Homo sapiens: one gene and its partners. The protein of the gene in region 1 purifies or fractionates together with the protein of each later gene. This does not show direct contact. Each region holds a gene or a part of one and is shown on either strand. Other genes may lie near its edges.

Evidence for each region.
Region 2: the proteins of MACROH2A1 (region 1) and EZH2 purify together in Homo sapiens (affinity purification with mass spectrometry; 3 studies listed by BioGRID and IntAct, with this or other methods). This does not show direct contact.
Region 3: the proteins of MACROH2A1 (region 1) and CHD4 purify together in Homo sapiens (affinity purification with mass spectrometry; 2 studies listed by BioGRID). This does not show direct contact.

The regions. Positions count from the first base shown.
Region 1 is NC_000005.10:135,336,913-135,340,239, forward strand, and holds part of MACROH2A1 (core histone macro-H2A.1), read right to left. Parts: intron 2,664-3,327; exon of another isoform or gene 2,516-2,663; intron 1,102-2,515; exon of another isoform or gene 1,019-1,101; intron 1-1,018. UniProt on the Homo sapiens protein: Variant histone H2A which replaces conventional H2A in a subset of nucleosomes where it represses transcription. Nucleosomes wrap and compact DNA into chromatin, limiting DNA accessibility to the cellular machineries which require DNA as a template.
Region 2 is NC_000007.14:148,874,230-148,877,881, forward strand, and holds part of EZH2 (histone-lysine N-methyltransferase EZH2), read right to left. Parts: intron 1-3,652. UniProt on the Homo sapiens protein: Polycomb group (PcG) protein. Catalytic subunit of the PRC2/EED-EZH2 complex, which methylates 'Lys-9' (H3K9me) and 'Lys-27' (H3K27me) of histone H3, leading to transcriptional repression of the affected target gene.
Region 3 is NC_000012.12:6,593,863-6,597,514, forward strand, and holds part of CHD4 (chromodomain-helicase-DNA-binding protein 4), read right to left. Parts: intron 2,276-3,652; coding exon 2,144-2,275; intron 1,569-2,143; coding exon 1,472-1,568; intron 789-1,471; coding exon 597-788; intron 1-596. UniProt on the Homo sapiens protein: ATP-dependent chromatin-remodeling factor that binds and distorts nucleosomal DNA. Acts as a component of the histone deacetylase NuRD complex which participates in the remodeling of chromatin.

The DNA of each region.
Region 1 (3,327 bases):
CTTCTAACTGTGGGCTGGGATCCTCGGTCCTGTTGCAGCCTGTACTTAGGGGCCAAGGGCTTCTGGAGCAGGCAGAGCCCAGTCTGTGGATGTGACCTGGATCAACGGGGGCTGCAGGGTGCTGAGAGGAGCTGTGAGAAGTTGCATTTTGCATGTGAATCCCAAGACCATGCTCTGCCAGCTCCAAGGTCCCTACAGTGAGGTGCCCTCTTGCCTGTCTCAGCCTCACACGTGCACAGGGAGCTGGGCTGGGCTGAGGGCCTGTGGAGCTACTGCAAACAGCAGTTGTCAGGTGGCCCGATGTTCTGCCTAGCTGAGCTAGCCCTGGGGCAGGGCTTCTGTAGCTGCAGCCGGGCTGCATGCCCAGGCAGCTGTCTCCAACAACGGTTAGCTACATCCCACACAAGCTGGGTGAGATGTGGTATGATGCAGACACAGTGTAGCCTGGCCCATGCCCATGCCATGCCATGCTGACTGGGAGGTCCCAAGGGGTCTCCCTGGAACACACCAAAAGTGTGCCAGTCACTCCTGCCTGTGACCAGTGCTTTCTGACACAGACCCCTCCTGAGGCTTTCCTTGCCTCTGCCTTGGACCCTTACAAAAGAGTATGTGACTTTCAGTGAGGAAATATTCTTTTCTATTCCTCTACATCAATAGTTCTCAAGCTTTAGCCTGCATCAGAATTCTGGAGAGCTTGTCAAAACACAACAGTTTGATTCAGCAGGTCTAGCAGCTTTTGAGAACTGCTGTTCTACAAATAGCCAGCATGGACTTTATAATCCAAGCTGGCAGGGTGGACCCAGATGTTGAGGATCTGCAAGTGGGGGAGAGAGGTCAGTATCAAATGTTTTAGACTTGCAGTGCCCACACCTGCCTACCGTCCCGTTAATAGAGAGCAGACGGTTCCACCGGAATGTCCCTGGCCTTGCAAGCATTTCAGGGTTGTTGGTGGGTGAACATGAATCTGGATTTGTTTCCAGGACAACCCTTTGTTGACAAATCCATCCCTCTGTCCTAGGAAGCTACAGCCTAAGGAAGAAACCCTGCTATGGGACTGTGGCTGCTCTGGACTGCGCAGGCTGCCAGGAAGGAATGGCGGAGGTAACGGCTTTCCTAACGTTTTCTGGTGGGCCTCAAAATGTCTTGCTGCCAGTTAGAATGCTTGTAGCAAAATGGAATGTGTAGGTGGATGCCCTGCAAGAGCACTCCACACACAGCCCTGCAGCCTCCAGACAGAGGCAGCGGTGGCACATGCAGCAGCTGAGGCAGGTCAGACCCAGGTCTGCCTCTGAGGCTTGGGTGGCCTGACAGCCCTACTCCCTCCAGGGTAGAGAAGCAGAGTGGTTAAGAGCTCAGGATTTCCCGGAGTCACACAGGATTTGAGTTGTGGTCCCACTTCGGTGCCTTGTTTCCCCATCCTGTGAAATGGAATCAGAGTCTGGGACAAGAAAATGCAAAGCACCGGGGCATGGCACAGAGAGTCTTCAGTTAAGAGGAGCTGTCTATAAAGTAGGTGGCTTTGAAGGGTCTTTTAAAAGGCTCATGCAGTAGAAAACTGCCCCTTCCACCCTCGTCCCTGGGATAGCTGTGACTGGGTAACTGCTGTTGTCGTTGCAGTTACACGGTGCTAACAATGTTGGCCTCAGACCCCAGAGAGCTGCTGGCCGTGACCGTGGGCATGCAGCAGCAGGGGCTACATAGAGGCTCCCCAGTGCAGTACTGACTGCTTTCAGGAGCAGTCATGCCCACTGGTGTTGCATCTTTGGCTTCTCAGCTGGGTTCACTTGCTACTTGCATAACCACGGCCCCTCTGAATAGCCATTCCTGCCTGGCCTGGCCTCTGTGCCAGCCACTCTGTCCTACAGCTGTGCTGCCTATCTTTCAGATCAGATGTTGCAGAGCAAGAGGGACTAAGGGCTTCCACTCTAGAGTCAGAATTGGGTTTGAATCCCAGCTGCTTTGGGCCAGGGTGTTAACCTCTCTAAGCATTAATTTCCTCCACTAGAAATTAGGTGTTTCAGGGGTCTGTGCAGTGATGACAATGGTGGTGATGATGAGGCTGCCAGTACTGCGGCCACCATCAGCCCCACCTGGGAGATGCGTGCACTGTTTGTTGTTTCCACTCTCTCTTCAGCCCCTGACCTGGCCTGTGGGTTGTGTTTATGGCATGTTCCTTAAGTTCCTCTGGAGTCAAGAGTTTCCTACACCATAGGGCTAGGACCTTAAGCAGACTAAAGAGACATCTGAGCTTTCCCTAAATTCACTCCAGTTGTGTCTGTAATGCCCTTTGCCTTTCCCAAGAGTCCTGGACCTCAGTTTCCCAGGGCCAGTGCAAGATGCCCTCTTGGGTCAGCCTCCTCAGTAATGGCTGGGGGGTGTACGCATTGGATGCTTGTCCCACGGTCCTGTCTGGACACGCAGGGACTCTAGGTGCACCAAGGACCACATCCCAGCTCTTCTCAGCCCTCTCCTTGAGTGGGACTTCACTAAGCACCCCTGCTCTCAGTGAGCTCACCTTCCAGGGCTGGGGCCAGGCAGGTATGCAGCAAATCCAGGCTAGGAGCTCATTAGGGACCTCAGAGAGTCACAGCAGGAGAGGCTGTATCCTGGGAGTCCAGGGAGATTTTTCTGGAGCAGACAGATTGCGAGCTTGCAATTGACGGCTGGGGAGGAGTAGAGGTGGATTCTGGTATTCTTTGTCTGTCACTTAGGGTATAGACATTCTTCTGCTAAGATTAGGTCCCCCTCGCACTGTGCTGTGGGCTGCTCTTAGGCCTTTACCATTTTTTAGTAATTGCCAGGTTGAAGTTGCCCCAGCCACAGGCCACTTTGATCCAAGTCATCAGGATCCTGAGCCGAGAGCAATGGTATACAGGAGGGAGAACATTCAGAAGCGATGGTGATGGGGCCACCACTCCCCTGAGCTGTGCCCCCTGCAGCTAGAGAGGGGATGGGGCAGCCCCAAAGTGGCCTCCCACTCCAGGCCCCCGGGCTTTGGGTAAATGAAAAATTCTCCCCCATTCAAAGGTCTCTTGAGTTTCTGTCCTTTTATCTCACCTCTGAGGCCAATGCTTAGGAGGGGAAAGAGGCTGATGGCTATACTTGGGCAGGTCAGGGAGTTCCCAGGTAGTGTTTTATGCACAGAGAGTACGCAGGCAGGGGGCAGTCCTATGGTGGGATGAGGTGGTGGGACCTGGGGTCTGGCTGACCAATGGAGATGGGAGGCAGGGGTTCCATGAGCCTAACAGCTCTGAAGCGAAGGGCTTCTGATCAAATTCTCACTCTACCAAGTACAAGTTGAGTGACCTCAGATGATTTACTTAACCC
Region 2 (3,652 bases), on another chromosome or scaffold:
TATAAAAAATTAGCTGGGCATGGTGGCATGTGCCTGTGGTCCCAGCTACTCAGGAGACTGATGTGGGAGGATTGTTTCAGCCCAGGAGGTGGAGGTTGCAGTAAGCCAAGATTGTGCCACTGAAATCCAGGCTGGGTGACAGAGCAAAACCCCGTCTCAAATAAAAAAGCAAAGAAAAAAAAAACACCTATCAGAGATAATACTAATTCAGAGAGTTTGGGCTGTTCTACAGACTACCTGGAATGCTACCTTCAGGAATTTCTTAACTTGAATCCACAGCCATGAGAAGACTGAGGTGGACAATGCCACGATCACCTACAGTGGTGGTAAACAACACCCAATGGAGGTCCAACAGCTTGCTTTATATATTTTTTTCTTTGTTAAACAGGAAAAGGAAAAGTTATGTATTACTTGAATATTGAAGAAAAACTAAAAATTTATTGTGGGGGCAATTCAGGTGTTGAGCAAAAGAACTGCTACTTTACAAAAATAAAATAGTGTATAGAAACCAAGTATATATAATCTGAAAAGCCATCCATTTCTATAATAAAAAAATTTACGGGAGGCTTAGGCAGGAGAACAGCGTGAACCCAGGAGGCAGAGCTTGCAGTGAGCCGAGATCGCGCCACCGCACTCCAGCCTGGGGGACAGAGCAAGACTCCGTCTCAAAAAAAAAAAAAAAAAATTTTACTTGATTGTCAAAGTAGGGAAACTAAGTTTGGCAATCATCATTTCTACATACCCCATTCTAAGATCAAGGTCACTTTTTACTTTTAATATTCTCATTTATCCTTTGAAGAAAAAATTTAAGGCTTAACTCACTAATAAATGAAAAGGTTTGAATTATGCAAAATGAAGAGAATTACTAAATACAATAATTTTCAAAACTAGTTTAATTAAAAAAAATTATCATCCATACACCTAACAGCATATGAATAATATCCTTTTAGTTTACAAGTTTCTGCAAATGCATAACATTTTGTTACACTAATTAAATGACTCGTGAATTAAGGACAATTTGTTTCACATAATTTATCTGATTATGCTTCCCATATTAAAGTTTTAACTTGATCTTTATAGTATTAAAAATACACAAAATCAAACAAAAATGAACAATAAAATATTTGCAACACAATCTGACAGATAATGTGACTATGTACCCAGAACATATAAAGACCTCTTGCCACTCAACCAGACAAACAATCCAATTTTTTAAAGGGACAAAAGGCTTGAACCAAAAAAAGTACACAAATGGCCAATAAGCATATGAAAAGATGTTCCAACATCATTGATCATCTGAGAAACACAAACCCACAATGAGATACTTAATACTCATTTGATGGCCAAAATTTAAAAGACTGGCAACACGAAGTGTCAATGAAAATGTGAAGAAACTGTAACTCCTGCACAGTTACAACTGTAACTTTCAATTTAAAATGGTACAACTATTTTGGAAAAGAGTTTAACGGTTTCTTACAAAGTAAAATCAATATTTACCACTAAAACATGTCCAGGAAAGACATACAAATGGTGATAGCAGCTTTATCAACAGCTGACAACAGTCCTATGTGTCCATCCATGGGTAAATGAATTTAAAAACTGTAGCACATGCCTACAATGGAATATTAATTCAGAGAGTTTACTACAAGTCAGGTGCCGCGGCTCATGCCTGTAATCCCAACACTTTGGGAGGCCAAGGCAGAATCATTTGAGCCCAGGAGTTGGAAACCATCCTGGGCGACACAGGAAAACCCCATCTCTACAAAAAAATATTAATAATAAATGTTAGCTGGGCATGGTGGTACATGCCTGTGGTCCTAGCTACTTGGGAGGCTGAGGTGAGAGGTTCGATTGAGCCCAGGAGGTCAAGGTTGCAGTGAGCTGAGATCTCGCCTAAAACTACAAAAATTAGCTGGGTGTGGTGGCAGACGCCTGTAATCCCAGCTACTCGGGAGACTGAGGCAGGAGAATTGCTTGAACCCAGGAGGCGGAGGTTGCAGTGAGCCGAGATCATGCCATTGCACTCCAGCCTGGGTGACAGAGCAAGACTCCATCTTGGAGGGAAAAAAAAAAAAGTTGAGAGAATGACTGTAAAAGAGGATGAAAGGACTCTGAGATGATGGCAACCATTATAGATCTTGATCCAGGCAGCGGTGCAGGTGCATACATTTGTCAAAACTCCTCAAATCATACCCTTCAAATGTGTGCTTTTTATTGTATGTAAATTATACTTCAATACAGTTGTTGTTTTAACTAAAAATTAATATAACTTGACAACACCTATTAAAACTAGAAATGTTCATAATCTTGAAAGAGCCAACTCTATAGAAAATTGTCACACAAATGTTCAAAGATACATAAGGATGTTCACTTCTTTTCAGGAGAGAAAACAATGTCAATCACAACAGATTGGTTTGCTGCGTAATGCACATTCATAAACTGGAATACTATGCACCCCCCTTACACCAAAGAGGTACAGCTGGATGGCTTAGAGCAAGGGGCAGCAAACTTTCTCTGTAAAGGGCCACATGGTAAGTATTTTAGGCTTGGCAGGCGGTATCTAGTCTCCCTTATATGTTCTTCAGGGAAGTGGGGTGGTATTGTTTTACAACTCTTTTAAAAGTGTTAACGTTTCCAGCTCACAGGCCTTACCAAAAATGATCCCTGGCTGGGAGATCAGGACTTTGAAGCTAACGTACCCAAATTAAAATCCTTCCTCTACCACTAACTAGTTGTTACTTAATCTCTCCATCTCTCGATATTATAGTATCTATATAAAATAATGACTTAGAAGAGTACCAAGCATATAGTGAGCCCTAAAGGAATATCAATTATTTTTTAATAAAACAGATCTTTGTATTGACCTTAAAAAAAAGCCATGTTAGAACCAAATAACTTGGTCCCATTTTTATAAAATGTATGTAAAAATACATATTCATATATGAATATATTTGAAAATTTGGGGAAGAATATACACCAAACCGTTAAAGGTAGCGAATGAGATAACAGGGATCAATACGCTTTCATTTTATAAATGTCTACATTGTTTCAGTAGTTTAAAGCGAACACATTTAATCAACAGACATTTCTAAATTGAAATAGATAAAACGTGTGGTACCATTTTTGTAACTTACCAGTCCTAAGCACGTAATTTTAACTTGAGAAGTGTTTGGTTCCATTAATGAGAAAGTACATCAACTCTAAAATAATATTGGCACAATAACTGAAAATCATTTATCAAACACTTTTTGCCAGGTACAGTTCTAAGGATTTCACATGTATCAATTCCTTTAATCCTCACAACCACCTTATCAGATGTTATCATTATCCTCACCAATTTACAGATAGGGATGCTAAGACATCAAGAGGATAACACCCCAGACACAAATTGGTAGCTCAGGGACTGGAACCCAAGAAACTGTCTCCAAAGACCACATCCTTAGAACTCTACTCTCCTCCCCTCTCAAATGCATACTATTACCACTCTGGCTGAGAAAGAAATCCTCAAAGTTAACCTTTAGTCTGTCTAGGGTTTCACACTGTACCTTCCATCAAACTACAATTACCTACTTTTAAATGTAACTTTCTGAATGATTCAAATAAACTCATTCTTCTCGGAGCTGACATATCTTTAATCACCCAGAAAGCCAGC
Region 3 (3,652 bases), on another chromosome or scaffold:
TTCACTCTTGTTGCCCAGGCTGGAGTGCAATGGCGCAATCTCAGCTCACTGCAACCTCCACCTCCCGGGTTCAAGCGATTCTCCTGCCTCAGCCTCCCAAGTAGCTGGGATTACAGGCGTGCACCACCACATCCGGCTAATTTTGTATTTTTAGTAGAGACGGGGTTTCGCCATGTTGGTCAGGCTGGTCTCGAACTCCTGACCTCAGGTGATCCACCAACCTCGGGCTTCCAAAGTGCTGGGATTACAGGTATGAGCCACTGCGTCCAGCCAAGCCTTTCCATACTAATTCTACTCATAATTCTACTTCCCTCAACACACAATCATTCCCCTAGAACTGATACTCTATGGATCCACTGCTAATCCTACCCAGGGCTCCATGCCCTCAAATCTTCCGCTGTGTACATGTGTTTATCCACTATCACATTTATCTACTATCTACTAAACACATGTGTACATGTGTTTATCTATTATCCACAGTGTTCTTGAAGGTCAGAGACCAATTTTTTTATTCCCTTATCTCTCTACTCAGTGTAAGTTAAGGCTTCAAACACAAAACACCCACACAAAAAACTATCCACCCCAGATTTCCTTACCTCCTTGTAAAGGGAATACAGGAAGACTGCTGTCTGTACAGTTTTCCCAAGGCCCATCTCATCAGCCAAGATGGTGTCAGTGCCCTGAGCCCAGGAGAAGCGCAACCAATTCAGGCCCTCCATTTGATAGGGGTGCAGGGTTCCACCTGTAGCATCCAGGTACTCTGGCTGTCGCTCATACTTCACTGTTGGCTGAAGGATGAAACAGAGAAGTCAAGAGCTGGCAAGGAACTCCCCTCCTCCCCTAATAGAGCAGCTGCTTCCTCCTCACTAGTCTTCACGGATCCTCTTGGGGAAGAGCTCCGGAAAATTCGGAGGGAAGAGATCCCCTATGATTACTGCAATTTCATGTTCAGTTTAGGGTCCTCCAGGAAACAGGGCTTAACCAGACCTGATTTTGATCCTACAGATCACTGAGGAAAAGCACGTCACAGACTCCCTACCAATACAATAATTCTACTAGTCAGGATCCACCAGGTAAATAATCGTTATGTCCCTCTTAGATTCATCTTTTTAACTTTAATCACCCTCAAATTACACTGTACAAACAAAACCCAGAGGAACTGAGCCTGAATTAAGCCAGATTCCTATGTAAGTGCATAAAAGCTAGGCTATGTGGCCCCTCCCCCCAGACAACACTTCTTCAATCATTCAAAATATACCTCCTTTTTTTTTTTCTGATGACAAAAGAAGAAAGTAATCCTAGTGCTTTCTGATATATAGAGATGTGGAGAAGTGGGGAAGCCGACTTTGTGAAGTAATCTCAGCTACAAAGTTACTATCTGCATTTCATTACTTAAGAGTACCATCATTAGACTGCAGCAAAGATACATTGTCCTACCCAACAAACTACAGTCCCTTCCACCCCCACTCACATCAACTGTTGGCGTTTCTGGAGGCCTCTCCAACTTCCGAAGCTTCACCTTCTTGAGCTTCTTGCCTGGTCGGCCTTCCTCACCCCTCATTAACTCCCTAAAGAAGAAAGACATCACACAGCTGCCCAAAATCCTTTTCTATAGAAGAAACAACTTGGCCAGGCACAGTGGCTCACACCTGTAATCCCAGCATTTTGGGAGGCCAGCACTTTGGGAGGCTGAGACGGGCGGATCACCTGAGGTCAGGAGATCGAGACCAGCCTGGTCAACATGGTGAAACCCCGTCTCTACTAAAAATACAAAAATTAGCTGGGCATGGTGGCAGACGCCTGTAATCTCAGCTACTCGGGAGACTGAGGCAGGAGAATTGCTTGAACCCAGGAGGCGGAGGCTGCAGCGAGCCAAGATCGCACCATTGCACTCCAGCCTGGGGGACAAGAGCAAGACTTCGTCTCAAAAAAAAAAAAAAAAAAAATCAGCTAGGTGTGGTGGCGTATGCAAATAATCCCAGCTACTCAGGAGGCTAAGGCAGGAGAATCGTTTGAACCAGGAAGTCGGAGGTTGCAGTGAGTCAAGATCACGCCACTGCACTACAGCTTGGTGACAGAGCAAGACTCCATCTCAAAAAAAAAAAAAAAGAAACAACTCTATGCCTCACCCAAAATCACTCACCTGTGATTCCAATAGCTCTGCTTGAACAGGTCGTAATCCTGGATCTCCACATCCTCACTCTCCCAAGAAGCCTGATCGTAAGGTAAGTCCCGCCACTTGATCAAGTAGTGGACGTGGCCCTTCTTGTCCACACTGCAAGTCCAGGAGAGAAAACCCTCAGAGCCAGAAAAGGCAACCCTCCTCACTTCCTCTCAAAAACTGGCAATACCGTTTGTTTCACACCAGACCTCTAGGTATGCCACAGATCACACGTTTTCAGAGCCTCTACTGTACCAGTCTCTGACCAAAAATTATCTCTAATTTATACTTTCCTAGAGCTCAAACACCAGAATTCAGTCAGTTAATAATTAACATAGAGTGTTGGCCGGGTGCAGTGGCTCACGCCTGTAATCCCAGCACTTTGGGAAGCTGAGGCAGGCAGATCGCTTGAGGCCAGGAGCTCAAGACCAGCCAGGCCAACATGGCGAAACCCGTCTCTACTAAAAAAAAAAAAAAAAATTAGCCAGGCATCAGGCCGGGCGCGGTGGCTCACGCCTATAATCCCAGCACTTTGGGAGGCCAAGGCAGGCGGATCACCTGAGGTCGGGAGTTCAAGACCAGTCTGGCCAGCATGGAGAAACCCCGTCTCTACTAAAAATGCAAAAATTAGCCGGGCATGGTGGCAGGTGCCTGTAATCCCAGCTACTCGGGAAGCTGAAGCAGGAGAATTGCTTGAACCCGGGCGGCGGAGGTTGCAGCAAGCTGAGATTGCGCCACTGCACTCCAGCCTGGGCGACAGAACGAGACTCCATTTCAAAAAAAAAAATTAGGCAGGCGTGGTGGCACACGCCTGTAATCCCAGCTACTCTGGAGGCTGAGGCAGAGAATCACTTGAGCCTGAGAGGCGGAGGTTGCAGTGAGCTTAGATCATACCACTGCACTCCAGGCTGGGCCACAGAGCAAGACTCTGTCTCAAAAAATATAATAAATAAATAAATAAATAGGCCGAGTGCGGCGGCTCACGCCTGTAATCCCAGCACTTTGGAAGGAGGAGGTGAGCGGATCACAAGGTCAGGCGATCAAGACCATCCTGGCTAACACAGTGAAATCCCGTCTCTACTAAAAATACAAAAAAAAAAAAATTAGCCAGGCATGGTGGCGATGGCCTGTAGTCCCAGCTACTCGGGAGGCTGAGGCAGGAAAATGGCGTGAACCCAGGAGGCAGAGCTTGCAGTGAGCCAAGATCACGCCACTGCACTCCAGCCTGGGTGACAAGTCTGTCTCAAAAAAAAACAATAATAATAAAATAAATAAATAAAGATAATAACATGAAGTGTCAGGCGCAGTAGCTCACGCCTGTAATCCTAACACTTTGGGAAGCTGAAGCAGACAGATTGCTTGAGCCCAGGAGTTTGGGACAGCTATGAGCAGTGATCACGACACTGCACTCAAGCCTGGGCAACACAGCTAAAATTTGTCTCAAAATAAATATATAAGGCTGAGCGTGGTGGCTCACGCCTGTTAATCCTA